Homo sapiens: one gene and its partners. The protein of the gene in region 2 interacts with the protein of the main gene of each other region in a biochemical or structural test. Each region holds a gene or a part of one and is shown on either strand. Other genes may lie near its edges.

Evidence for each region.
Region 1: the proteins of ARCN1 (region 2) and COPB1 form a complex in vitro, tested with the Homo sapiens proteins (2 studies listed by BioGRID).
Region 3: the proteins of ARCN1 (region 2) and SCYL1 form a complex in vitro, tested with the Homo sapiens proteins (one study listed by BioGRID).
Region 4: the proteins of ARCN1 (region 2) and WBP2 form a complex in vitro, tested with the Homo sapiens proteins (one study listed by BioGRID).

Annotation. Positions count from the first base shown.
Region 1 is NC_000011.10:14,496,795-14,504,411, reverse strand, and holds the start of COPB1 (coatomer subunit beta), read left to right. Parts: upstream 1-4,600; 5' UTR 4,601-4,705; exon of another isoform or gene 4,706-4,803; intron 4,804-5,426; 5' UTR 5,427-5,483; coding exon 5,484-5,574; intron 5,575-7,617. UniProt on the Homo sapiens protein: The coatomer is a cytosolic protein complex that binds to dilysine motifs and reversibly associates with Golgi non-clathrin-coated vesicles, which further mediate biosynthetic protein transport from the ER, via the Golgi up to the trans Golgi network.
Region 2 is NC_000011.10:118,582,395-118,589,425, forward strand, and holds part of ARCN1 (coatomer subunit delta), read left to right. Parts: intron 1-784; coding exon 785-964; intron 965-1,414; coding exon 1,415-1,620; intron 1,621-2,085; coding exon 2,086-2,250; intron 2,251-7,031. UniProt on the Homo sapiens protein: Component of the coatomer, a cytosolic protein complex that binds to dilysine motifs and reversibly associates with Golgi non-clathrin-coated vesicles, which further mediate biosynthetic protein transport from the ER, via the Golgi up to the trans Golgi network.
Region 3 is NC_000011.10:65,535,052-65,539,204, reverse strand, and holds the end of SCYL1 (N-terminal kinase-like protein), read right to left. Parts: intron 3,979-4,153; coding exon 3,823-3,978; intron 3,253-3,822; coding exon 3,064-3,252; intron 2,947-3,063; coding exon 2,871-2,946; intron 2,620-2,870; coding exon 2,455-2,619; intron 2,220-2,454; coding exon 2,077-2,219; intron 1,397-2,076; coding exon 1,325-1,396; intron 1,239-1,324; coding exon 1,023-1,238; intron 955-1,022; coding exon of another isoform or gene 936-954; coding exon 881-935; intron 764-880; coding exon 639-763; 3' UTR 501-638; downstream 1-500. Other genes in the region: LTBP3 (latent-transforming growth factor beta-binding protein 3 isoform 1 precursor), read left to right, coding at 1-125. UniProt on the Homo sapiens protein: Regulates COPI-mediated retrograde protein traffic at the interface between the Golgi apparatus and the endoplasmic reticulum. Involved in the maintenance of the Golgi apparatus morphology.
Region 4 is NC_000017.11:75,845,305-75,852,335, reverse strand, and holds the end of WBP2 (WW domain-binding protein 2), read left to right. Parts: intron 1-659; coding exon 660-768; intron 769-2,596; coding exon 2,597-2,732; intron 2,733-3,673; coding exon 3,674-3,766; intron 3,767-4,405; coding exon 4,406-4,540; intron 4,541-4,726; coding exon 4,727-4,849; intron 4,850-5,351; coding exon 5,352-5,428; intron 5,429-5,548; coding exon 5,549-5,602; 3' UTR 5,603-6,637; downstream 6,638-7,031. UniProt on the Homo sapiens protein: Acts as a transcriptional coactivator of estrogen and progesterone receptors (ESR1 and PGR) upon hormone activation. In presence of estrogen, binds to ESR1-responsive promoters. Synergizes with YAP1 to enhance PGR activity.

The DNA of each region.
Region 1 (7,617 bases), about 100 Mb from region 2:
CATTTTTATCTTAGACCATGTAAACTGAAATTAGAGGAAATCTGATTTAAAAAAAAAAACCATAATCCTGGCTGGGCGTGGTGGCTCATGCCTGTAATCCCAGCACTTTGGGAGGCTGAGGTGGGCGGATCACTTGAGGTCGGGAGTTCCAGACCAGCCTGACCAACATGGAGAAACCTCATCTCTACTAAAAATACAAAACAATTAGCTGGGTGTGGTGGCACATGCATGTAATCCTAGCTACTCAGGAGGCTGGGGCAGGAGAATCGCTTGAACCCAGGAGGCAGAGGTTGCAGTGAGCCAAGATCGTGCCATTGCACTCTAGCCTGGGCAACAAGAGTGAAACTCCATCTCAAAAAAAATTTTAATTTAATTTAATTTTTAAAAACCCATAATCCGGCCAGGCGCGGTGGCTCACGCTTGTAATCCCAGCACTTTGGGAGGCCGAGGCAGGCGGATCACGAGATCGGGAGATCGAGACCACGGTGAAACCCCGTCTCTACTGAAAATACAAAAAATTAGCCGGGCATGGTGGAGGGTGCCTGTAGTCCCAGCTACTCGGAGAGGCTGAGGCAGGAGAATGGCGTGAACGCGGGAGGCGGAGCTTGCAGTGAGCCAAGATCGCGCCACTGCACTCCAGCCTGGAGCGAGACTCTGTCTCAAAAAAAAAAAAAAAAAAAAAAGACAAAAACCATAATCCAAAATTTGGCTGCTGACATCTAGAGGAGTTATTTTATTTTCTGAGATAATACATCTTTCTGAAGAAAAATTCATTTATAGATAGTAACCCATTTTAGACCTAATTCTAATTAGCTGCTATTGGCTTTGGGCAAGTTACTTAGCTCTTTTTTAAGGAAACCCTTTGGAGAATTATAGTGAGGGTTAAAAGGGAGAATTTATGTGATAACACCTTTTAAACTCTAAAATTCATAGTTTATTTTTTCCCCCCAACTTTCCCAAATCTTCAAAAGCCTTAGTAGGTTTAAATCCCCCTGATTTCTTAGAGAATGGTAAAAGTAGCTCTGGGAGCCTTATTAAGGGAAAGATGTCTAAGTACTGGAATGTGAGAGATGTCAGTTTCTCCAGCAGTAGCCTCAGGAATCTACCATGCAAGCTTGGGAGTTAGACGCAAGTACCATGTGGCTATTTGACCTACAGTGGAGTTGCATCAAGCACATGTAACTTTCCACACACATACACACACACACACACACACACACACACACAAAATAGTGAACTCAGGAACTCCCACCTGCCTCTACACTCAATGGGTATTTAGTCTGGGGAGGGAGCATAAGTGGGAAATATAATAATCTGCCCTTTGCTTAGGCAGATCTCTCTTCCACATGCATTCCATTGGGTGAGCCTCTGTCTTTGCTGAATGATTCTGCTGTTTAAAGATATTGTGGCTCATACCTGTAATCCCAGCACTTTGGGAGGCCGAGGCGGGTGGATCACCTGAGGTCAAGAGTTCGAGACCAGCCTGGGCAACATGGCAAAATCCCGTCTCTACTAAAAATACAAAAATTAAATGGGCATGGTAGCACGCGCCTGTAGTCCCAGCTACTCGGGAGGCTGAGGCAGGAGAATCACTTGAACCTGGGAGGCAGAGGTTGCAGTGAGCCGAGATCATGCCACTGCACTCCAGCCTGGCCAGGTGACAGAGCGAGACTCTGTCTCAAAAAATAAAACCAAAGATATTGTTATGTTTATCATTGTGGAACATGCACCTGTTCCACAAATACAAACCACTAGTTGGCTTGTATTCAGCTAAAAAAATAAATATTCTGTATTATACTTTGGGAGCAATTTAAGTAATTTTTTCAATGTGATTTTTAGTCTTATATACTGACTTTAGAACTTAAAGTCCTCCCCACTCCAGTAATACTCAACCCCACTGTATATACAGTTCATTGTGATGCCCTTTCATGTTTAGTCTGTTGTACTCACATATTCCATTTAGTCTGTTGAATAATTACAAACAGTAAAATCCTAATGATGTTTTATAAAGCCTGTCACTTTGATACAAAGATACTCAATTCACCTGGAATTTATTGAGCATGTATGTGTGCAGCTCTGAAGAACTGGCATGGAATAAAAGGCAGTGGCTGGGTGTGTTGGCTCACGCCTGTAATCTCAACACTTTGAGAGGCCGAGGTGGGAGGATTGCTTGAGTTCAGTTCAAGACCAGCCTGGGCAATATAGTGAGACCCCATCTCTACAAAAATTTTTAAAACTTAGCCTGGTGTGGTGGCACACACCTGTGGTCCCAGCTACTCAGGAGGCTGAGGTGGGAGAATCACTTGAGTCCAGAGTCTGAGGCTGCAGTGAGCTATGATCATGCCGCTGTACTCCGGCCTGGGTGACAGAGTGAGACTCTTGTCTCAAAAAAATAAAAATAATAACGTAGATGACAGGATTCAGGTCCTAGTTCTAACTCAGTGTTTGGCCATTACATGATTTGGGGCAAGTCCCTATTCTCTAGGCCTTGACTTTTTAGATACCACAATTTCTATGGTCCTTGATAAAATGACAAGGTCTTTGCTCTGCATTTATAATTTAAAGGCATTCAAAATTATATAATTACATCTTAGAGTAAAACAGCCCAAACAAAGTGTATTTTACAACAGATCAGGAAGAGTTAATGAGGTTAATATTAAGGTCCTTATACCCATTCAAAAAGCTTTGTACTTAAGAATATGGAAAAATATATGCACTGCCAATGACAATTGTAGGTTCAGATCTAACTAAAGTAATATGTAAAACATTACATTTTCTTGCCTTTTCATATTTAGAACTTAATGACTTGGGGTCATGAGAAACCTCAAAGTTATTCTGTAACAGAATGAACCTCTGGGGCAAATGAAGTCTGTACGGTTTAAGTCCTACACCATGATGGCCCTAAACTGAGCTTTCTTACTGTAAATCTAGTTTTTATACCTTTTTTGGCCTCATTTCTTGCTGACAGATTGTCACTTTTTGGTAAGTTAAGTGGGCTTGGAAACCAGATAACTGCATTTGTAAAACTTCCATGTTAAAAACGAATACACAGAAAAGGAACAAACTGTTGTACACACACCCGGGATTGATCTCAGGGGAATTATGCTCAGTAAAAAAATCCAATCTCAAAAGATTACATTGTATAATTCCATTTATATAACATTGAGATGATAAAAATCATAGAGAATTATTAGTGGTTGCCACAGGTTAGTGTGGGAGGTGGCTATGGCTATCAAAGGACAGCATGAGAATCCTTGTGATAGAACTGTTCTGTCTCGACTGTGTTGGTGATTACACACATATAAGCATGATAAAATTGTCTACAAGTGAATATAAAAACGAGTACATGTAAAACTAGTGAAGTCTGAACAAGGCTGGGTGAATTATGTCTGTCAATTTCCTGAAATTGATATTGTACTATAACTATGCAAGATGTTACCATTGGGAGAAACTAGGTAAAGAGTATATGGGATCTCTGTATTCATGTCACTCTACCATTAAGATTAAATATTAAAAAAAATGAATGCACAGAATCAGAGAGGCACTCTTAAAGTGCTGTCAACACATGGCCTTTGAATACAATTTTGGGTGCTCAAAGAATTTGTAGATTGCTTGATGGTTCTAAAAAGAGAAAGCTCAAAAGAGCTAGATCCTACATAAATGAGGTACTATTGGTGTTCCATCTTCCTGAGATGAACCTGTTAACTAGGGCAGTTGCCGTCAGATCTGTTTTTATTCGCAGTATTTTGCTTAAGCTTTAAGATATTTTGTTATTAATAATTGGCCATAAAACCCTTTTGTGGGCAGAGGGAGGTGTAGGGGCGGGGCGTGCTATGGAACTTCAAATGGGCAAAACCGAAAGTACTATGGCTGATTGCAGCTGTAACAGGTCTTTGGAGATACGTAAAATCCTTTAAAACAGTGACTGTCTCCCTTTATGCATAAAAATTTTTTCTAATCTACTGGGTGCTCAGAAAGGATCACGGAAAGAGGCCATTATTAAATAAAAAGCAGAAATTATACCAATGTGACTTTGGATTTTCAAATAACTCCAGCCCTACCTGCAGAGAGGCAGATTCAAACTACTAGCGATGTTAAGAACTGAAATGGATTTTAATCTAGTGATAATTAATAAAATAACTGAATTACCTTCCCAATAGTATTAGTTACTTTCCCAGTTTATTAGGGTGTGGACAAGAAAAAGGATTACTGGGTTTCCACTTTCTAGTCCAGAGCTCTTTTTCACGGGAACAGAGCCCTGTAAAAGTTTCCCTCTCTCCAAGCACTTTCTCCCCTTGACTGTTCCTGAAGAAGGAACGATTTCCAGTTAGCGTTTAAATTAGCATAGTGCTTAACTCAGAGCTTGGCTTGCAGGGAAAACTAGAAAATACGTGGTTTCATTGCTCTGCGGCCTAATCAAACCCTGGACAAGAGAAGAGGAAGAAAATAGGATATACTTGCAGCGCGCAAGCGCTGCACAAAGAAAGCATGTCCTCTCTGAGTCGCCGTAGGTGCTAGGTGGCTGTGGCTTCGGTCGTTACCCCACCCCCTTCCACGTCAGCCAAGGACTCTGGAGCCGCCGCCGCCGCTGCTGCGGTTCATAGCCGGAGTAGACGGAGCCGCAGTAGACGGATCCGCGGCTGCACCAAACCACTGCCCCTCGGAGCCTGGTAGTGGGCCACAAGCCCCCAGTCCCAGAGGCGTGGTGGGTCGGGCAGAGTCGGAAGAACTGGCTTTCTAGCTGGAAGATGCGGAAGGGGAGCGACTAGGCCGCTTGCGTCTGGGCCTGGCAGAAGGGACCGGGTGGGGGTACGGGTGGGGGTGCGGGTCGGGGTGGGGGCGGAGGGCTAGGAAGCTCCGGGTCGGACGCTCCATCCCGTCCTTTGTATTGGCCGGGGGTCTTTTCCCTCCCAAGACCCCTAGGCGTACCCTTTCAGGCCTAGGGCTGCTTTGCTGGAGGAAGGGGAGGAGGAAGCGGGTGGGGCGAGGTGGGGGTGCAGCGCGTTGATTAAGGGACCCGCGGACATAGAGTCGGAACCCACCAAGGACCGCGATAAAGCGCTTTAGGGTTTTGGCAGAGTATTCAGGCACAAGGTCTCTTAACTTGAGCATGCAGATTGTGTGTTGTGTAAAAACCATACGGTCCATAACATTGTGGGGTGTGGCTGGGGGGACTGTCACTGTTCTGTGGGCCTTCATTCGGCTATACAGCATTCTCAAACACTGGACCGGGATGCGATGAGGGAGTGATAGATAATATACCTTATGCCAGAGCTGATAATGTGGTTTTTACTAGAATTTATTTTTATGGGAACACGATATAGATTGACCTGCCCTTTCTAATACTTTAAAAGGTCACTATAGGTACTTGTTTGTGGGTTTTTTTTTTTTAATTTGTAATGATATGTCTGTGTTTATTTTTCTAGATTTTCTGGCATCCTTAAATCTTGTGTCAAGGATTGGTTATAATATAACCAGAAACCATGACGGCGGCTGAGAACGTATGCTACACGTTAATTAACGTGCCAATGGATTCAGAACCACCATCTGAAATTAGCTTAAAAAATGATCTAGGTAAACTTCGATATTATTTTGAGAATGAAATGAAAAAAGAAAAAACAAAAATAAAAAACTCATATTTCATATTCCTTTATAATTAGAAATGCTTAATTTTTGTCTAAAGTTTTTCTAGGATCTCTTCGATAGACCTTTTATTAAAAATGCGAACTTCTTTAAATATTGGTTGTTTGAAATAGAACATCTCAGTTTATCTTAGTAAACCTAAAGAAATTGTAATAGTTTAGATATTCCTCAAAATGTCATAATTTTTGTAGACTTCAATATATTAATGTGGCTGATTATTTTCTCTAGGCAACAGGTTGAGGATGTGTATTGGAATATCTTAATTCCATCGTGCACTTAACTTCATGTTACTTAGCTTGTAAAACCAAAAGAACTTTGTTCTTTGGATTACCCACCCAAACAATTAGGTGAACACTGGAATAAACATGTATTTTCCAGAAAAGTTTACCTTTTCATTTTTTATGCATTTTTGCAAATAAGAAAACAACTATATTTCTGAACTTTTTGTAATGTTTAATTTTTGGGGGTACACAGTAGATGTATATATTTATGGGGTACATGAAATGCTTTGATACAGGCATGCAATACATAATTATCACATGGAAAAATGGAGTATCCATCCCTTCAAGCATTTGTCTTCTGTGTGACAATCCAGTTACACTTTCAGTTATTTTTAAATGTCCAATTAAATTATTATTGACTGTAGTTACCCTGTGTGCTATCAAATATCGGGTCTAACTCATTTTTTCTGTACCCATTAACCATCTCCACTTCCCTACCACTACCCTTCCCACCTCTGATAACCATCCTTTTACTCTGTCTCCGTGAGTTTGTTTTGATTTTTAGCTTCCACAAATAAGTGAGAACATGTGAAGTTTGTCTTTCTATGCCTGACTTATTTCATGTAACATAATGACCTCCAGTTCCATCCATATTTTTGCAAATGACAAGATCTCATTCTTTTTTTATGGCTGAATAGTACTCCATTGTGTATATGTACCACATTTTCTTTATACATTTATCTGTTGGTGGACACTTAGGTTGCTTTCAAGTTTTGACTGTTGTAAACAGTGCTGCAACAAACATAGGAGTCCAGATATCTCTTTGATGTACTCATTTCCTTTCTTTTGGATATATACCCAGTAGTCGGATTGCTGAATCGTATGGTACCCCTGTTTTTAGTTTTTTGAGGACCCTCCAAACTGTTCTCCATAGTGGGTATACTAGTTTACATTCCCACCAACAGTGTACGAGGGTTCCCTTTTCTCCACATCCTCTCCAGCATTTGTTTTTGCTTGTCTTTTGGATAAAAGCCATTTTAACTGGGGTGAGATGATATCTCATTGTAGTTTTGATATGCATTTCTCTGATGATCAGTGATGTTGAGCACCTTTTCATATGCCTGTTTGCCAATTGTATGTCTTTGTGAAATGTCTGTTCAAATCTTTTGCCCATTTTTAAATCAGATTATGAGTTTTTTTTTTTCCTGTAGAGTTGTTTGAGCTCCTTACATATCTGGTTATTAATCCCTTGTGAGATAGGTAGTTAGCACATATTTTCTCCCATTCTGTGGGTTGTCTCATCACGTATGTCGATTGTTTCCTTTGCTGTGCGGAAGCTTTTTAACTTGATGTGATCCCATTTGTCCGTTTTTGCTTTGGTTGCCTGTGCCTGTGGGGTATTATTCAAGAAATTTTTGGCCAGACCAGCGTCCTGGAGATTTTTCCCAATATTTTCTTGTAGTAGTTTCATAGTTTAAAGTCTTAGATTTAAGCCTTTAATCCATTTTGATTTTATTTTTGTGTAAGTTGAGAGATGGGGGACAAGTTTCATTCTTCTGCACATAGTTTTCCAAGCACCATTTATTGAAGGGACTGTCTTTTCTCCAATGTATGTTCTTGGCACCTTTGTCAAAATGAGTTCACTGTAGGTGTATGGATTTGTTTCTTGGTTCTGTTATTTTCCATGGGTCTTTATGTCTGTTTTTATGCCAGTACCATGCTGTTTTGGTTACTGTAGCTATGTAGGATAATT
Region 2 (7,031 bases):
GCTGGGATTACAGGCATGAGCCGCTGCACCCGGCTGTAAGAATCAGGGTCTTGGGCGTGGTGGCTCACGCTTGTAATCCCAGCACTTTGGGAGGCTGAGGCGGGTGGATCACCTGAGGTCAGAAGTTTGAGACCAGCCTGACCAACGTGGTGAAACCTCGTCTCTACTCAAAATACAAAAAAATTAGCTGGGCATGGTGGCGGGCACCCATAATCCTACTACTCAGGAGGCTGAGGCATGAGAATTGCGTGAACCCAGGAGGTGGGGGTTGCAGTGAGCCGAGATCGTGCCACTGCACTCCAGACCGGGTGACAGAGTTAGACTTTGTCTTAAAAAAAAAAAAAAAAAAAAAATCAGGGAGTTAGGCTGGGCGCAGTGGCTCACGCCTGTAATCCCAGCAGTTTGGGAGACTGAGGCAAGCGGATCACCTGAGGTCAGGAGTTCAACACCAGCCTGGCCAACATGGTGAAACCCCGTCTCTACTAAAAATACAAAAATTAGCTGGGCGTGGTGGTACACACCTGTAGTCCCAGCTACTCCGGAAGCTGAGGCAGGAGAATCACTTAAACCCAGGAGATGGAGGTTGCAGTGAGCCGAGATGGCACCACTGCACTCCAGCGTGGGCAGCAGAGCGAGACTCTGTCCCAAAAAATAAAATAAAGACTAGAAGTAGCTAATAAAGGGATTTAGGTTATTGAAATTTATGTACTCTAAAGGATAAGACTTGGAAATATAGCTGCTGATAAATTCTAAATCTTTCTTTTTTATTGGTGTCCACGCTTAGATCCCTGAATATTGCCGAGCCTTAGAAGAGAATGAAATATCTGAGCACTGTTTTGATTTGATTTTTGCTTTTGATGAAATTGTCGCACTGGGATACCGGGAGAATGTTAACTTGGCACAGATCAGAACCTTCACAGAAATGGATTCTCATGAGGAGAAGGTGTTCAGAGCCGTCAGAGAGGTAAATAGGATCTTCTCTGGGACTACCTGTTTGTATGTCTTTCTCTTAGGCTTCACTAATCTCATTTTCCTATTTTTACTTACTAATGTAGACTGTATTCAAAACTATGTCCAGGCTAGGCACAGTGGCTCATGTCTGTAATCTCAGCACTTTGGGAGGCGGAAGTGGGAGTATCACTTGAGTCCAGGAGTTCAAGACCAGACTGGACAGCGTAGTGAGACCCTGTCTCTATAAAAAGTAAAAAAAAAATTAGCCAGGCATGGTAGCACGTGCATGTGGGTCCCAGCTACTTGGGAGGCTGAGATGGGAGGATCACTTGAGCCCAGGAAGTTGAGGCTGCAGTGAGCTGTGATTGTGCCACTTGCACTCCAGCCTGGGTCACAGAGTGAGACCCTGTCTCAACAAAAACCCAAAAAAAAAAGCTACATTAATGTATGTCTTTTTCTGTAGACTCAAGAACGTGAAGCTAAGGCTGAGATGCGTCGTAAAGCAAAGGAATTACAACAGGCCCGAAGAGATGCAGAGAGACAGGGCAAAAAAGCACCAGGATTTGGCGGATTTGGCAGCTCTGCAGTATCTGGAGGCAGCACAGCTGCCATGATCACAGAGACCATCATTGAAACTGATAAACCAAAAGTGGCACCTGCACCAGCCAGGTATAATCCAGTGTACTTTAGAATACCAGGTGAAGGGTGTATATGTGTCTATCTTTGAAGTCATAATCTGATTTCTTGGAAAGCTGTAAATAAAGAAGGACTTGATGAAGTAAGATATGATGTTACATTTGGCCACATACAATATGAGGATAAAGAAGAAATCTGAATGTGGTGTTTTTCCTTTTGTATAAAAGAGAGTTATAAATTATGTCATGACCTCAGTTTCCTATGAGAGTTGCCTTATTGTGGGGAGGAAAGGGCTATTTAATGCTTTATGGAATGTAGATTTTTAATCTTGATGTTCATTGATTGATTTTAGGGGAAATCTGTGAATTACCCAAAATTATATACAAAATTTTGTGCACAGGTGTATTTCTCTGGACGGGAGATACAAAATTTTCATCAGATCATGTGTGCTTGTAAAAATAAACCTTTGGGTAATGAATTTCAAATTCTTCCACTTAGGCCTTCAGGCCCCAGCAAGGCTTTAAAACTTGGAGCCAAAGGAAAGGAAGTAGATAACTTTGTGGACAAATTAAAATCTGAAGGTGAAACCATCATGTCCTCTAGTATGGGCAAGCGTACTTCTGAAGCAACCAAAATGCATGCTCCACCCATTAATATGGAAAGGTAAGTAGGAACTTTGAGTAAGAATTCAAGCTTTGAATACAGTCCACATAATTTTTTAAAAATCTTATTTCAGTGTGCTATAAATTCTTTCTCTGTCTTTTAATCGTTCCTGATTTAAAAGATTTATTCAGAGCAGATTCTACATATTAACATAAGATCGTTTTTGGTTTTGTTTTGTTTTATTTACTTATTTTTTTTTGAGATGGAGTCTCACTCTGTCACCCAGGCTGGAGTGCAGTGGTGTGATCTCGGCTCGCTGCAAGCTCTCCCTCCCAGGTTCACGCCATTCTCCTGCCTCAGCCTCCCGAGTAGCTGGGACCACAGGCGCCCACCCCTACGCCCGGCTAATTTTTTTGTATTTTTAGTAGAGATGGGGTTTCGCCGTGTTAGCCAGAATGGTCTCGATCTCCTGACCTTGTGATCCGCCTGACTCAGCCTCCCGAAGTGCTGGGATTACAGGCGTGAGCCACCACGCCCGGCTGTTGTTTTGTTTTATTTTTTTGAGACAGGGTCTTACTATGTTGTCTAGGCTGGCCTCCAACTCCTGAGCTCAGTTAATCTTCCTGCCTCAGCCTCCCAAGTAACTGGGATACAGGCATGCGTTGCTGCACCTGACCTTTTCCTTTTTCCTTAAACCATGATTGGGGGCCCTCAGCCACCTATTTTCTATGAAGTTTAGAACTTTCCTTTTACAGCTAAATTAAAGTTACTTGTAGTCACACCTGGTATATAGCGTATCTCTTAGAATGCACTTGAATTAGGGGACTAGAGCTATGGTGACCCCACACTGTATTTTGGCATGACTTTTTCTAATTAAAGTCTAAGTAGAACCAATCTTTAATCCAAAACTTGTAGATATCTTTAATAGCAAATTAATATATTTTGCATTTTTATTTTATTTATTTATTTTTTTGAGATGGGGTTTCACTCTGTCACCCAGGCTGGAGTACAGTGGTGCAATCTCAGCTTGTTGCAACCTCTGCCTCCCAGGTTCAAGTGATTCTCCCACCTCAGCCTCCCAAGTAGCTGGGACTACAGGCATGCACCACCACGCTGGGCTAATTTCTGTATTTTGGTAGAGATGGGGTTTTGCCTTGTTGCCCAGGCTGGTCTCGAACTCCTGGACTCAAGCAATCTGCCTGCCTCGGCCTCACAAAGTACTGGGATTACAGGCGTCAGCCACCATGCCCAGCCATCTTTTGCAGTTTAAATATTTGAAGCCAGTATGGAATATTTTGATTCATCTCTTATCTCAGGGCTGTGGTACTGGTTGGTGACATTTTTAAGTGGTAGTTATCAAGTTCACATATTCGTGACTCAGATTTCTCGTCTTGAAGCCAGACCTTCTACTGTTGCTGATGGTTTTGAGGTCAAGTGAAAGATAATACCAGGAGGATACCTTTATCAGGTGTGCATAAAAGAGGAGTATTTACTCTTTTTCTTTCTTCTTTCCTTTCTTTCTTCCTTTCTTTCTTTCTTGACAGAGTCTTGCTCTGTCTCCCAGACTGGAGTGCAATGGCACGATCTTGCAACCTCCACCTCCCGGGGTCAAGCAATTCTCCTGCCTCAGCCTCCCAAGTGGCTGGGATTACAGGTGCACGCCATCACACCCGGCTAATTTTCTTATTTTTAGTAGAGACAGAGTTTTGCCGTGTTGGCCAGGTGGGTCTCGAACTCCTGACCTCAAGTGATCTGCCTGCCTCTGCCTCCCAAAAGTGCTTGGATTATAGGCGTGAGCCACCGTGCCCAGCCAAGTATTTACTCTTTATATGCCCTGTTCTGTATGAAATGAACAGGGTTACATTGGGATAAATTTCTTGATTCACTAAAGCCGCTGTGCTCTTCCTAGTGGTTGCTTTGAGTGAGACAGAGGCTTCACACTTTTAAAAAGATATTCCTGAGTGCAGTGGCCCACACCTGTAATCTTAGCACTTTGGGAGGCTGAGGTGGGCGGATTGCCTGAGCTCAGGAGTTCAAGACCACCCTGGGCAACATGGTGAAACTCCATCTCCACTAAAATACAAAAAATTAACCCCTTCTCCACTAAAATACAAAAAATTAGATGGGCGTGGTGGCACACACCTGTAGTCCCAGCTACTCAGGAGGCTGAGGCAGGAGAATTGCTTGAACCCGGGAAGCAGAGGTTGCAGTGAGCCAAGATGGTGCCACTGCACTCCAGCCTGGGCGACAGAGTGAGACTCTATCTCCAAAAAAAAAAAAAAAAAAAAAATGTTGGAGATCATCACATATTAAAGAGAATTTGAGACACTGTTTTTTTCTAAATGATAAATTGCCTCTTGAGCACAGAGCAAACTTTTGTGAAGGTAAAATGGTACCATGCATTGTCTTAAGATGCACTCCTTTATGGTCTTGACTCTGATGCCTTTGTTTCTAGGAAGACCTAAGAGGTTGGAACAAAGAACATGGTAGGATAACAAAATATTTTTTGTAGCCTCTGTAGTTCATCCAGCCAAACGTATGTCTATTACTGAATATGAATAGATTGTACTTAATACTTGCCTCTAGCAGCAGCAGTTTTTAATCTTTTAAAAATTGGATTATACATTCATATAGTACAAAATTCAAAAGTTGTTAACAGTCAGAAGTCTTCCTCTCACTCAGCCATGCCAGTTTCTCATTTTGGAGACAACTAGTATTAACAGAGTTTTTTGTGTATCCTTCTAAGGGGGATGGTCTGTGATATACAGATGAATAAAAAACATGTATACAGTGTGTCTATTTTTCCCCCTTTTATGCAAAGCAGTAAAACTAGACACGTCTTCCAATTGCATTTTTCATTTAATTATTTTGGAGATAAGAATCTCCTTATTTGAAACTGCAGAGATATGACATCTAAATGCGCAATACCTTACCCTAGACTGGATCCTCTACTAATGTAGTGTAGAAAAAACAACTCAAACTGTTTGTTTTTTCTATTTTCTCATTCAACAGCAACAATGAACACAGAAGACTTCTGTGATCAAGTGTGTTTAGATTTTTCCGCACACATCAAGCGGTCACACCTAGCTGGTGTCCTCCAATTCAATTCAATTCTGATGCTATCTACCTGGGAATAGCCTCAGATTCTACAGGTTGAGAGTTCAGTCCCCCAAGACTGATTCTTCCTTCCCACCAGTCATAAGTCCAGACTTTCAGAACTTCTTACTGACCTCAAGTTTGGCCTCCCACGACCCCCTCTGGGGTGTTCAATTAATCTGCTAGAGCACCTCACAGAACTCAGGGAAACTTACTTGACATTTATCAGTTTGTTACAGAGGACATTTTAAAGGATGCAAATAAGCAGCCAGATGAAGAGATACATAGGGCAAGGTCTGGGAGGGTCTTGAGCACAGGAGCTTCTGTCCCCAGGGAGCTGGGGTACGCCACCCTCCTGGAAAATAGATGAGACCTTGTTCATCTTCCTGTAAGCCTGCATGTGTTCAGCTGTCCAGAAGCTTCCCAGACCCTGTCCTCTTGAGCCTTTTATGGAGACTTCATTGGATAGGCATGATTGACAGGCATGCAGAAATGTGACTGGGCAAGGGTATGACCTAATACTGATAGGCTGAGTGGGGAAACACAGCAAGGCCTGTCCAAATTCTTGGCCTCTCTGTGCAGCATTAATCTTCCTCCAGGATATGGTGCAGGACCCCTTTTGGAGATCCTGCCTTGGGCTGGTGAAAGGAGGGCAGGAGAAGGTCAAAGAGAGGTTCTTTTTTCTAAGGGCTGCTCCTGAGGCCTAAAGTGCCCCAACATTATGTATAATAAGGGATATGGGAGTTATGAGCTAGGAACCATGGATGAAAACCGGTATGTATGTATATCATAATATCACAACTACTATTAAAAATATTATTAGGTCAACTGACGAAATTGACATATGGTTGACAGATCGGATACAATTATTGTATCATTGTTAGCCTGGCATGATGGCACATGGCTGTAGTCCTTCCTACTCAGGAGGCTGAGGCAGGAGGATCACTTGAGACCAGGAGTTCAAGGTTATAGTGAACTGTGATTGTGTCTCTGAATAGCCACTGCACTCCAGCCTGGGCAACATAGCAAGATCTGTCTCTTAAACAACAACAACAGGCTGGGTGCGGTGGCTCACGCCTGTAATCCCAACACTTCGGGAGGCCGAGGCAGGCAGATCACCTGAGGTCAGGAGTTCAAGACCAGCCTGGCCAGCATGGTAAAACTCTGACTCTAGTAAAAATACAAAAATGAACCGGGCGTGGTGGCAGGTGCCTGAAATCCCAGCTACGCAGGAGGCTGAGACAGGAGAATCACTTGAACCCGGGAGGCAGAGGTTGCAGTGAGCCGAGATCACGCCATTGCACTCCAGCCTGGGCAAGAAGAGTGAAACTCTATCTCAAAACAACAACAACAAAAAGCTAAAAAAACTATCAGTGTAAATTTGTGAAGTTAATAATGGTACTGTGATTGATTATGTAAGAGAATATCCCTAATCTTATAAAATAAGCACTGAAGTATTTAGGGGTAAAGTGCCGTGTTGTATATAATCTGCTTCTTAATGGTTCAGGGAAAAAAAATCAAATGTATAACATACATATATAATGTTTAGAGAGAGAGAAACACAAGTGCAAATTATAAAACAAATGAGGTAAATATTAACAATAGGTGAATCTGGAAAAGGGTATATATGTCTTCCTTGTATAATTTTAATTTTTTTAAGCTTGAAAATACTTACAAATAGAAAGTTTTTTCAGTTGTTTGTTTTCTCACCATTGCCTACTATTCATTCGGGTGGATATGCCTTT
Region 3 (4,153 bases), about 53 Mb from region 2:
AGCGCGGGCTGCTGTGCAAGAGCGAGCGCTGCGTGAACACCAGCGGCTCCTTCCGCTGCGTCTGCAAAGCCGGCTTCGCGCGCAGCCGCCCGCACGGGGCCTGCGTTCCCCAGCGCCGCCGCTGACGCCGCCGACGCCGCCCTCGGCCCAGACCTCGGTGATCACTGAGGGATTTCCGCGAGCTCGGCCTCACTTCTGCCCCGACTTGTGGCTCGGACCCAGGGACCTTCAGGGCCCGCAGACCCTCCCGGCGCCTTGAGACCCGAGGCGCCCCTACCGGCCCCCCTCCCCGGTTAGCGGGCGGTTGTAAGGTCTCCGGCGGGCGCTGCCTGCCTTCCTCCCAGAGGGTGTTTCCTAGAAACTGATAAATCAGATCGTGCCTCTTTACCCTTGGCTTTCGAAGCAAATTGATGTTCACGTCTGACGTGGGCGCGGGCTGCGCAGGGCGGCGCCAGACCCCAGCCGCCTCCCAGGGGCTAGACTGAGCCCGGCACAAGGGGTGTGAAATAGAATTTATTGTGGCTCTGATTATGTACACGTGAGATGGCCTGGCTGGGCCGGCCGGGCTCACATGGTTTGTACAATAAATACATCTGTGGGGCGGGCTCTCCGCAGCCGGGAAGGGCCACCGCCACGGTTCAGTCCAGCTTCCGGGCTCCCAGCTTCATGGGGCCCTTGGCCACCTTCCTCTCGGCGCGTTTGGCCTCCATCTCCCGCCGCCGCTCCTCGCGCTTCTTCCGGGCCAGCTCAGCCTTGACCTGTCCTGGCGTCAGGAAGGGGAGCCCCGGTCTCAGCTCTCCAGCCAGTGCCTGCCGGGGGCCTGTAGGGGCGGGCTAGTCGGGGAGCCCTAGTCTTCAGCCCACCCAGGGGAAGCACTTACGACTGTCAGTCTCGAGGCCCTCCCAGTTGTCCTCACCCCAAGAGTCTGGCCTCGGCTGTAAAGAGAAGTGTGGGCTGCAGTGGGGCCCACTTCTGGCTGAGGTCCACCATCTCTACCCTCTCGCCAGACCTGTGCTGGGTACCTGGGTGCTGGGACGTGCAGACAGGGTAGCGAAGGGGTCGCCCTTGTCGCTGGACTCTGGGCCACCCCAGTTATACTCGCTGGCCAGCCGTGTACCGTCAGGAGGTGGCTCCTGGGAGCTTGGCTCCTGCCAGCCCTGTTCCCAGGAGCCCTCAGCTTCCCAGCTGCTCCAGTCGGACTCTGGGGATTTGGAGGATTTGTGGTCGGAGTTGCTGACCTGTAGAAGAGCGGGAGGGGGAAGTAGCCCTGGGCCCAAGGAGGAAAGAGCCCCATACACACACCTCCCCACCAGACCCAGCTCACCTGACTAGCACGGCTCACTTGGCCCCCGGTGCTCCAGTCGTCCTGCTGGGCCAGCACAGACTCGGCCTCCTGCTGCAGTGTGGGAAGGGACCACTGACTCCCACCCCATGCTAAAGGGCAAGTGAGCCCGCCCCAGCATCATCCCAGCCACGGGCCCCACCACTGTCTTTTGCCTTCCTCCTCATTTGCTCCTCAGGCCCTGTTTCCCATCTATTAAATGGACGCTGACCCTGGCCTGCCCTCACCCCTCTTTAAGGCTGGGGAATGAGATCTAGATGCCCCTTCCAACAGCCTTGAGGGCCAGAAACTGCTGCTGTCAGCCAGATGGGGAAATTGGGCCCCCAGCTCTGCCCCATTCTGAGGACAGCCCCAGTCCTCCCTCAGCCCAACCTGAGCCCATCCCCCAAGCAGAACTGGTCTGGTTCTAGACCCAGGAGTGGCCTCTCCTTGCTGACCCCCATGGCTGGGTGGGCACTGGAGGAGGGGAAAGGGGGACGGTGTGGGTAAGAGTGAGGAAGTTCAGGGAATGCCCCAGGCACCATCTGCCTAGCCTGCTCCCTGGGGCCGCTGGGGTTGAATGGGGCCTGCTGCTGGCTCTGGCCTACAATGGCCACTCCATGAGGCCTACGTGCCAGGGATGCTGTGCTGATGAGGACAGGCCAACTCCAGCCAGGCCCCACAGAAGCTCCCTGAATGGCAGCCTGTGGATTTGAGCTGGGGTCCCCTGGGGAGGCTCCCTCAGCCCCACACACCTCCAGGCTGCCCCAGTCTTCGTCGTCCCATCTGTCAGCAGTGCTGCTGTCCTCTGCTGTGTCCTTGTCCTCCTCCTGCGTCTCCCAGTGGCCTGAGGTTGTAGGGGTGGCAGGAACAGGGGTGGGGGCTGGGGCAGGAACTCCTGGGGAGCAGAGGCTCACTGAGCTTTCAGGGGGGTCTTGGGACAGGGCAGAGGCTGCTAGGGGAAGGGGGCTACTGGGGGGAAGGGGCACCAAGGAAGCCCACAGGGTGACTGGAGCCTACCCAGCTCCTATATCCCCTTCACCATCCCCGGGGGAGTCAGACAGTAAGAGTTCCTGGGTGCCTGCAGCTCTCAGCCCTCTCAGCCACTGATGCAGCTAGGCCAGGACACTCACCTTCAGGCGTGGGTCTTTGGGGAATGTTGGTTTCTGTTGGGGCAGTGGTTGGGTGCGAACGGATCAGCTTGGAGGTGAGTGAGGAGACCCCGGTCACGGCCCAGCCTGCCCAGCTAGCTGCGGCTCCTCCCATGCCAGGGCTGGAGGCTGCATGGACATCCTTCTCTGGGCAGTGGCATGAGAGAGAGGTGGGTATGGGCACGTCAGGCACCCATGGGTGACAGGACAGCAGGAACTGACAGTGCCCTGCAGCCACCCCTCCTTTCTCCAGGCCTGATTTCTCCCATCTGTGAAGGGGGAGCTGAGTCAAGTCTGCTCACTAGGACCTTTCAGAAACTCCAGTGGGGGTGGGACACAAACAGGTCACAGTCAAGGACATGGCAGGGAAAGAGGGAACACGAGTGTAAGCCACTCACCCACTTCCTCCAGCTGGGTCGGGTCCTCCGACACAGACTCCAATTTGGACAGGAAGCTCCGAATGGCCTTGAAGGCCTGTGGGGTAACGAGGCAGAGCTGGGGTCTCTGGGGTTCCCAAGAACCTACCAGGCCAGCTAGGGGCTGACATCCCCTACAGCCCCAGCCCAGGGCCCAGGCCCAGCTGTGCCTCACCTGGTCTCGCACGGATTTCTCAGGATCTACAGTGAGACCGCAGAGCACAGGCAGGATCTTCTGGGCACAGTCGTTCATTGAGTAGAGGTTGTGGGTGGCAGCAAAGCCCAGGACACCCGCAACCCGGGACGGTGCAAACGGGTCCCTAGTGGCTCGGCTGAAGGCAGAGGTAAGGACCCTGTGTCTGGTCTACGATGGGGCAGGAAAGAGGGCTCCTGAGTGTAGGGTCAATGTTGGGACCCAGAACCACCAGCCCTTACTTCCCAGAATGGGACCACCCATAGGTCCCCAGAATCTGAAAAATATGAATGAATCACTTAAATGGGGAGAGTTGACCTAAAACTCTGGACCTGGGCTTCTCTTCCCAAATCACTGGGTTCCACACTGCCTCAGGGCATGGGACCACAACAGCAGCTGTCCCCAGGGCTCGGACACAGGCTCCCTTCCTCCCTGCCCAGCTGACCGTTCATTCCTGTTAACTGTCTGGGCACGGCAAGCAACTGAACTTACAAACCCTGGCTGAAGGGATGCACACAGGCCATGGGGCCAAGCACGCCTGGATTCAGATCCCAGATCCCTCCTGACTGTGTGACTTCGGCCAACTCACTCCTCCTCTGGGAACCCAGATATGGGGCCAACAGCGTGCAGGGTCTAAGTCTCTGGGAGAATGAAGGCCCCCACACACAAGACTCCTGGCCCTGGAGGAGGCTGTGGTCCTGCGACAGGGACCGGGCTCCAGCAGTTGTGCAGGACACTCACGCTAGCACTGAGGTAGGAGCCGATTTTGCCCAGGCAGACTGTGGTGTTGCAGCGGATGGGGCCCTGTTCATCCTTGGCCTGTAGCCGTGCAAAGTGCTTCATCAGCTCCACATTGAGGTTGGCCTCGTTCAGCTTTGGGGCCAGGAGCAGCATGGACTGTGGGGCAGAAATGAGTGGGAACTGTGGGCTGTGGCGGGCAAAGGGCCTTGTGCAGGAACAGCCTCCTGGCAGCCCTCATCCCAGAGCACACCCATCAAAGCCTGCAAGGCCACCTCCCAGCCTGGGCCTGGCCCTGTCCAGCATGTTGAAGAAAGGGACCCCATTTCTGTCC
Region 4 (7,031 bases), on a different chromosome or scaffold from region 2:
GAAATTTTACAGAACCCCCAACCTGCTCATTTCTTCCATGGCTATATTAATGGGTTTTTTTGTTGGTTTTTAGTTTTTTTGTAGAGATGAGGTCTCACCATGTTGCCCAGGCTGGTCTCAAACTCCTAGGCTCAAGCGATTCACCCGCCTCAGCCTCCCAAAGTGCTGGGATTACAGGTGTGGGCCACTGCGCCTGGCCCTATGAATGGCTTTATTTATTTATTTGTTTTTGAGACAGAGCTTCTCTCTTGTTGCCCAGGCTGGAGTTCAGTGGCGCCATCTCAGCTCACTGCAACCTCTGCCTCCTGGGTTCAAGCGATTCTCCCGCCTCAGCCTCCTGACTAGCTGGGATTACAGGTGCCCGCCACGGTGCCTGGCTAATTTTTTTGTATTTTTAGTAGAGATGGGGTTTCACCATGTTGGCCAGGCTGGTCTCAAACTCCTGACCAGGGGTCATCCGCTCGCCTCGGCCTCCCAAAGTGCTGGGATTACGGGCGTGAGCCACCGCGCCCAGCCCTATGAATAGTTTTAATGCCGCACTATTGAGAGGTTATGAGAGCTGACGTGCCGGGCAGCTGCTTGGGAGAAAGGCCCAGTGTCTGGGTGACGTCGCGTCTCCATACTGTCTCATTGAGGCTTTTCCTCTTTTCTCATCACAGCATCCTAATGTCCTATGATCACGTGGAACTCACATTCAATGACATGAAGAACGTGCCAGAAGCCTTCAAAGGGACCAAGAAAGGCACTGTCTACCTTACCCCTTACCGGGTGAGTTGCACAGCAGGGCAGTTGGTTGAGAGGCTTGTTGCTGTTGGAGGTGACGTGAGTCTTAGTCTCAGGTCTGCCTCAGCCTCATGAGTCAGGTGGCCTCTGAATCCTGGTGAGTGTTAGTGCTTCACTCTGCCTGTTTCTCTGTCACATGCTCCTGGATTCCAGAATCACCAGGCTCTTTGTGTAACTGACCTGACCACTGGGCAGTGAACCCATGTCAATTCCAGAGCCGCTGCTGCAAAATCTCTATAGAGTTGGATGCAGCCGCTGGCATGACTTGGGCCTGGAGGCCAGACTATTATTATTAATATTTTGTTTTCTGTGAGAGTAGCCCATGAAGCCCTGTGTGTATCCAGAGTGAGAAATCCAGTAAACAGGGTACAGTTGCATGGCACGGCCTCCGGACTGGGCAGAGAGCCCGGTACCACCCCGCAGAATGACAAATGCCAGGCTGCAGAATGGGCCCTGCCTGAGAGTTACCCACGTGGACTCTGAGAGGTTGAGAAATACAAATGGATGTTCTTGGAAAAGGATTGCTGCCTGTGGCTACTCAAGATTTAGACTCAAAGACAGGCTGGTGCGGAGGCTCATGCCTGTAATCCCAGCACTCTGGGAGGCCAAGGTAGGCAGGCCACTTGAACTCAGGAGTTCGAGACCAGCCTGGGCAACATGGCAAAACCCCATCTCTACAAAAAATACAAAAATTAGCTGGGTGTGGTGGCACATGCCTCTAGTCTCAGCTACCCGAGAGGTAAGGTGGAGAATAACTGGAGCCTGGAGAGGTTGAGGCTGCAGTGAGCTGGGATCATGCCACTGGATTCTAGCCTGGGCAACAGAGTGAGACCCTGCCTAAAAAAAAAAGACTTAGACTCAAAGACAGCTGGAAGAAGAGGAGCACATTTTCAAGTTTTAATCTCCATGACTTCACAAAGACAGGAGAGTCTCAAAACCCCATCTCTGGAGGCTCAACTTGGCACCTTCAGTCACAGATAAAAGTCGTGGGTTTAAAACCCTGGCTGGGGCCGGGTGCGGTGGCTCATGCCTGTAATCCCAGCACTTTGGGAGGCCGAGGCGGGCGGATCATGAGGTCAGGAGATCGAGACCATCCTGGCTAACACGGTGAAACCCCATCTCTCCTAAAACTACAAAAAATTAGCCGGGCATGGTGGCGGGCACCTGTAGTCCCAGCTACTCAGGAGGCTGAGGCAGGAGAATGGCGTGAACCCGGGAGGCGGAGCTTGCAGCGAGCCAAGATCGCGCCACTGCACTCCAGCCCAGGCAACAGAGTAAGACTCCATCTCAAAAAAAAAAAAAGAAAAGAAAAGAAAAAATAAAACCCAAGGGTTTCTCCAGGCACAGGCTCCAGGAGAGCTCTTGTTGCTGTTTATAGCCCCCCTCAATGGGAGCTAGCGACCTACTGCACCATCATTCTCAGTTCTGGAGAGTTCAGGCTGGAGACCCCCCTCTTTCAGGAACCCATCCCTGCCTTGCCTCTGCCTGTCCTTCCCTAGCTTCGTAGGCCCCTTCACTTAGGCAACACTGCCACCACCCCACCACGTCAGTGACAAAGCAGTCTGCCCTGCTCATAGATACTATCTGTGACCAGCACGTTTTTCTCCCGTGTGCGTGAGCTTGGCCTCTCCAGGCTGCGGTGAGCCCTTTCCCTTTCCAAAGCTCTCTCCAGGAGTGTCTGGCACAGAGAGAGCCATGGGGCTGCTGGACCCTGGCACTGGGAGAGGATTCGTCACTCCCAGGAAGCAGGCGGGAAGCATGGCAGCGTGGGCTGTGCTTCTAGTACTGATGGCCTCACCCTCTCTCCCTGCAGGTCATCTTTCTGTCCAAGGGCAAGGATGCCATGCAGTCCTTCATGATGCCATTTTATCTCATGAAAGACTGTGAGATCAAGCAGCCCGTATTTGGTGCAAACTACATCAAGGGAACAGTGAAGGCGGAAGCGGGAGGTAGGTGATGGGAACTCAGGGACACGCATGGGGCCTGCAGGGAGGTGTCCTGGGAACCTCTGACTGCCGCCGTGGGGGCGTCCCCTTCAGACCCTTATCGCCCTAGCCATGACCTCTTCCCAGCTCTGGGCTGCCAGCTGGTGGGGTTTGATTGCCAAGAGGTGGGGAAAATGCTGGCATGAAAGACAGCAGCTCAGATCAGCTTTTCAGAGCGTGAAGTCTGCAGAAGCCTGCGGACTGAGTCAAGATGCTTAGTGCAACTTGGCGAGCGCATACAAATTTTAGACTCAGGAAGGAGCTGCATCAGGTTCTTGAGAGGGGCCTTTTCATGAGAGCCAGGAAGAGGCAGCTGCCTCTGGGAAGCCAGAGTCACCCTGCTTTGGGGCTGGCTTTTTGGCAGGCCCCAGAGACCTCTGCATTGAACTTGCCTTCCCCTTGACACCCAGCCAGGCCCGCCCTTGCTATTGAGACACTCTTGGTCCCCCTTTGGGCAGAAGCCAGGCTAGAGGGGCCGGAGTCTGTCCTTGGGCCCCCTTAGGACGAGAGGTCTGCTCTGAATTTTAAGGTCGGCTGTTGCTGAGTGGGCTTGTTCCTGTGAAGCTGCCGAGTGCTTGACTGGGGGCGGAGAGAAACCTTGATGTGGCCTTGGCACCCGTGTACATATTGGGCCAAGGGTGGGAGGACAGGCTTGTTCCAGGAAGGAGAGGCCATTGTTCCAAAGGGGGAAGCGAGTACAGCAGGGCCAGGCCAGGCTGCAGTGCTGGCTCCTATGCAGGCAGCAGGCTGGAAACCATGGCACCAGGAAGTCCCCATCACAGTGCAGGCCCAGCCCCCGCAGGCCTCCCGGGCGTTGGATGAAGTCCTGGAGAGGAAAACAGCCATCTCTTTGGGCATAAGTTTTCTTTTCCTGTGCTGTTTATTCACTGTCCTTCCCCTTTCAGGTGGCTGGGAAGGCTCTGCTTCCTACAAGTTGACTTTCACGGCAGGGGGCGCCATTGAGTTCGGACAGCGGATGCTCCAGGTGGCATCTCAAGGTATCCAGGCTCCGAAGATTAGGGGCTAAAGACACACTAAACATGTAGGGGTTTGGTATGAGTTTGCTTCCTTTTCGTTTTGCTTTTTCAAGAACTCAAGAGGTAAGTGTTTGGGCACCAGGCTGACCAGGCCTAGGAGTTGGGAAGGAAAGCTGTCATTGGCATCAGCTCTGTCCTGTACCTCAGAGACTGCGTTTCCCTGCCTGGGGCAGGTGGATGACGTTTTGACAAAGCTGTTTGGACTCAAGGACACTTTACTATGGCCTCATAAAACAAACACTAAACCAACCATTCGACTGCGGTTCCGCAGCCATTGAAAATGACCGAGGGATGGGCCAGCAGACATCCTCCGCCAGCTCACTCCTACCCCAGCCCTGAGCCTCCCTCCCGGCCTCTGTCCACCCTCCAGCCTTGCCCTTGACCTCCCTTGCCTTCCCCTGGCTCTGACCTCTCCCGTCCTCTCTCATCCCTGACCAAGGTGGCCCCCCGAGTATGGGTGGAGGGTGGAGTGGGATGGACAGAGGATGTCTGCGGGGCACATTCCTGAGACCCAGTAGCTCCCATCTGCAGGCAGCGGGGCTGCCCTCTCCCCGCCCCAAGGCAGGCCACGCTCATTTCTCTTTCCCCTTGTACTCGTAGCCTCCAGAGGTGAAGTCCCCAGTGGAGCCTATGGCTACTCTTACATGCCCAGCGGGGCCTATGTCTATCCCCCGCCAGTCGCCAATGGAATGTACCCCTGCCCTCCTGGCTACCCCTATCCACCGCCCCCACCTGGTGAGTGTGTCCTTTGCTGCCCCCACTCCCCTCATGAGCCCACCTACCCAGGCTCCCCCCAGGCCAGGGAGACTTTATTCCTTGAGCTGCTTCAGGACCAACGAAGGAGCTGGAGAGGCCCCCCTCACCCGGGAGGGGGCCGCAGCCGGGTGCTCACCATGTCCTTGTTACTCTCTCACCGAGCAGAGTTCTATCCAGGACCCCCCATGATGGACGGGGCCATGGGATACGTGCAGCCCCCACCACCGCCCTACCCTGGGCCCATGGAACCTCCGGTCAGCGGCCCCGATGTCCCCTCCACTCCTGCAGGTGAGGGCCCTTGGGTGCTGGCAGCCCTTCGGGACCAGCCCTCTCCTCCCCGATGTCGCACAGAGAGCCTCAGAATGGCCAGAGACTGCTGAGAGCCGCAGATGATGGATGACCCCTGGACTACCCCAGGGGCCCAGCAGGGCTGTGGCCTGGTGGAGCGGAGCTAGATTCTGGCCCCACCCCCATCCCTTAGCTATCCATGTGCCCTGGGCGGGGAAGGTCACCCTGTGTGCCTCTCGATCCTCTCATCTACACTCAGCTGGTCGGTCACAGTGGCACCTGGGGCATTGGCTCAAGGATTAGATGAGGTGAGACATGCGATGGGCCTGGAAAGGACCGTGCCAGCGCGTGGCATGTGCTCAGGAAACCTCACCTGCTGCTCTCATTGGTGGAACTGGACCCCCAGCACCAGCTGCCCCGAGCCATGGGGGCCCGGGGTCTCTTAGCTGAGCTCAGGGGGAGGAGAACTTGTCACCGACACCAGGTGTGTTTGCTCTCACAGCCGAAGCCAAGGCCGCAGAAGCAGCCGCCAGCGCCTATTACAACCCAGGCAATCCTCACAACGTCTACATGCCCACGGTGAGAGGGCTTGGCAGTGCCGGTGCAGCCCCACAGCCGCAGATGCTGGGAGCCGCAGGGGGATGACCGCACCATGTTTTAAACCTTCTAATGCAAGTCTCTCCTTTCTCCCTTCTTTAGAGCCAGCCGCCGCCACCTCCCTACTACCCACCGGAAGATAAGAAGACCCAGTAGGCCCTCCTGCCTCCCTGCCTCCCACCCTCATCTCTCTACCCTACCCCTCCCATCGGGGCTGTGCTGGGGCTTGGGGAGGGGAGGGGGCGCCTTGTTCTCCCTCCAGGTCTGATCATAAACAATTACCAGGAACTAGCATTGTGGGACATTAGGGCCCCCGGCCTCGGGAGAGGTGCCGCCCAGCTTCCCATGCCAGCCCGGAGCCCACAGTGCTGCCCAGCGTACCTCCCTCACCGTCTGGGGCTCTTCTGGGAGCACGGAGCATCCCCTGTTCCTGTTTCACTCTCAGCTTCTCCCCTCGAAGGGACTCTCTGGCCACCTCCTCCACCGCAGTCCAGCTCCCTCAGTCTGGCACCCACTGCTACACTCAGCCTCATGAGCCACTTCAGACCAGCCAGGTGTCTTCCCGGGCCCTGCCAGACCCTGCTCACATTCCCTCTGCTGGTCTGTGCTGGTCTCAGAAGGCCACCGCGCCCGCATTCCACTCAGCCAGGGTCCAGCTGCAGCCCCCGCCACCCTTCCTTCCCTTCCCTGTCCTGGGTCATGTTGTTGCCACCCTGTGTGACTTTTGAAGCTGTAAAATGAGCTTCCAGGGCTTGGGTGGCGTCGGGGCAGGGCCGCCGAGGCTGGGAGGAAGCCCTTCTGCCTTTTGCTGGTGTTTCTGGAATTTGCTTTCCCTCACCTCTCACTTCCTTCTAGAAGGAGCTTCCTGACTGGAACCAGAGAATGCATGTCTGTCCACTTGGTGGCTGCTGGGTGGGGCCGGGAACAAGGGCCCCTGACCCTGTGTGCTGGCCGGGACCTGCCACCAGCCCCCCAGCCTGCTTCTTCCCCTTAAGCTTTGTGCCCCTGGATGCGCTAACATTCACTCTTGTTTGTCCCTGGACTGGCCATGAAGTGAGGAGATGGTTATTTAAAGAGAATTCCCTATTTATTTGACAAAAAATCCAGTTAATATATTAATGTGAAATAAACCCTGTTTGCACCTCGATTTGTTTGCTGAAAATGTGAAATAGTAAAAATGAAATAACTGGACCCTTTCTGGCTCTGCGTGTGGTGACCCGGGGGTCTCTTCCGGAAGGAGAGCCGTCTGGCCGCTGAGGGCCCTGGAGACTTCTGGGACGGTTCCCTCCCATGGGAGGATCCCCATTCTCACGGCCCAGCCAGCCTGTCTGGTCCCCAAGACAGCTCTGGCCTCTGGAGCTGGTTCTTAACGGTTGTCGCTCAGCAGCTGTGTCCCTCCCCCACTGAGTCCCCAGGGCCTGGCTGGGACAGAGGTGGATGTGGCCCAGAGTTGGCCTTGAAGGGAGGAGTTGGGGCTGCCACCTTGTCCCCTGCTGGCTCCTCGAGGAATGGCAGCCCTGGCCTAAGTCCTGGTTGCTGGAGGGAGGAGGCCGAGTCAGCCCTGGAGCACGTCAGGACCTGTGAC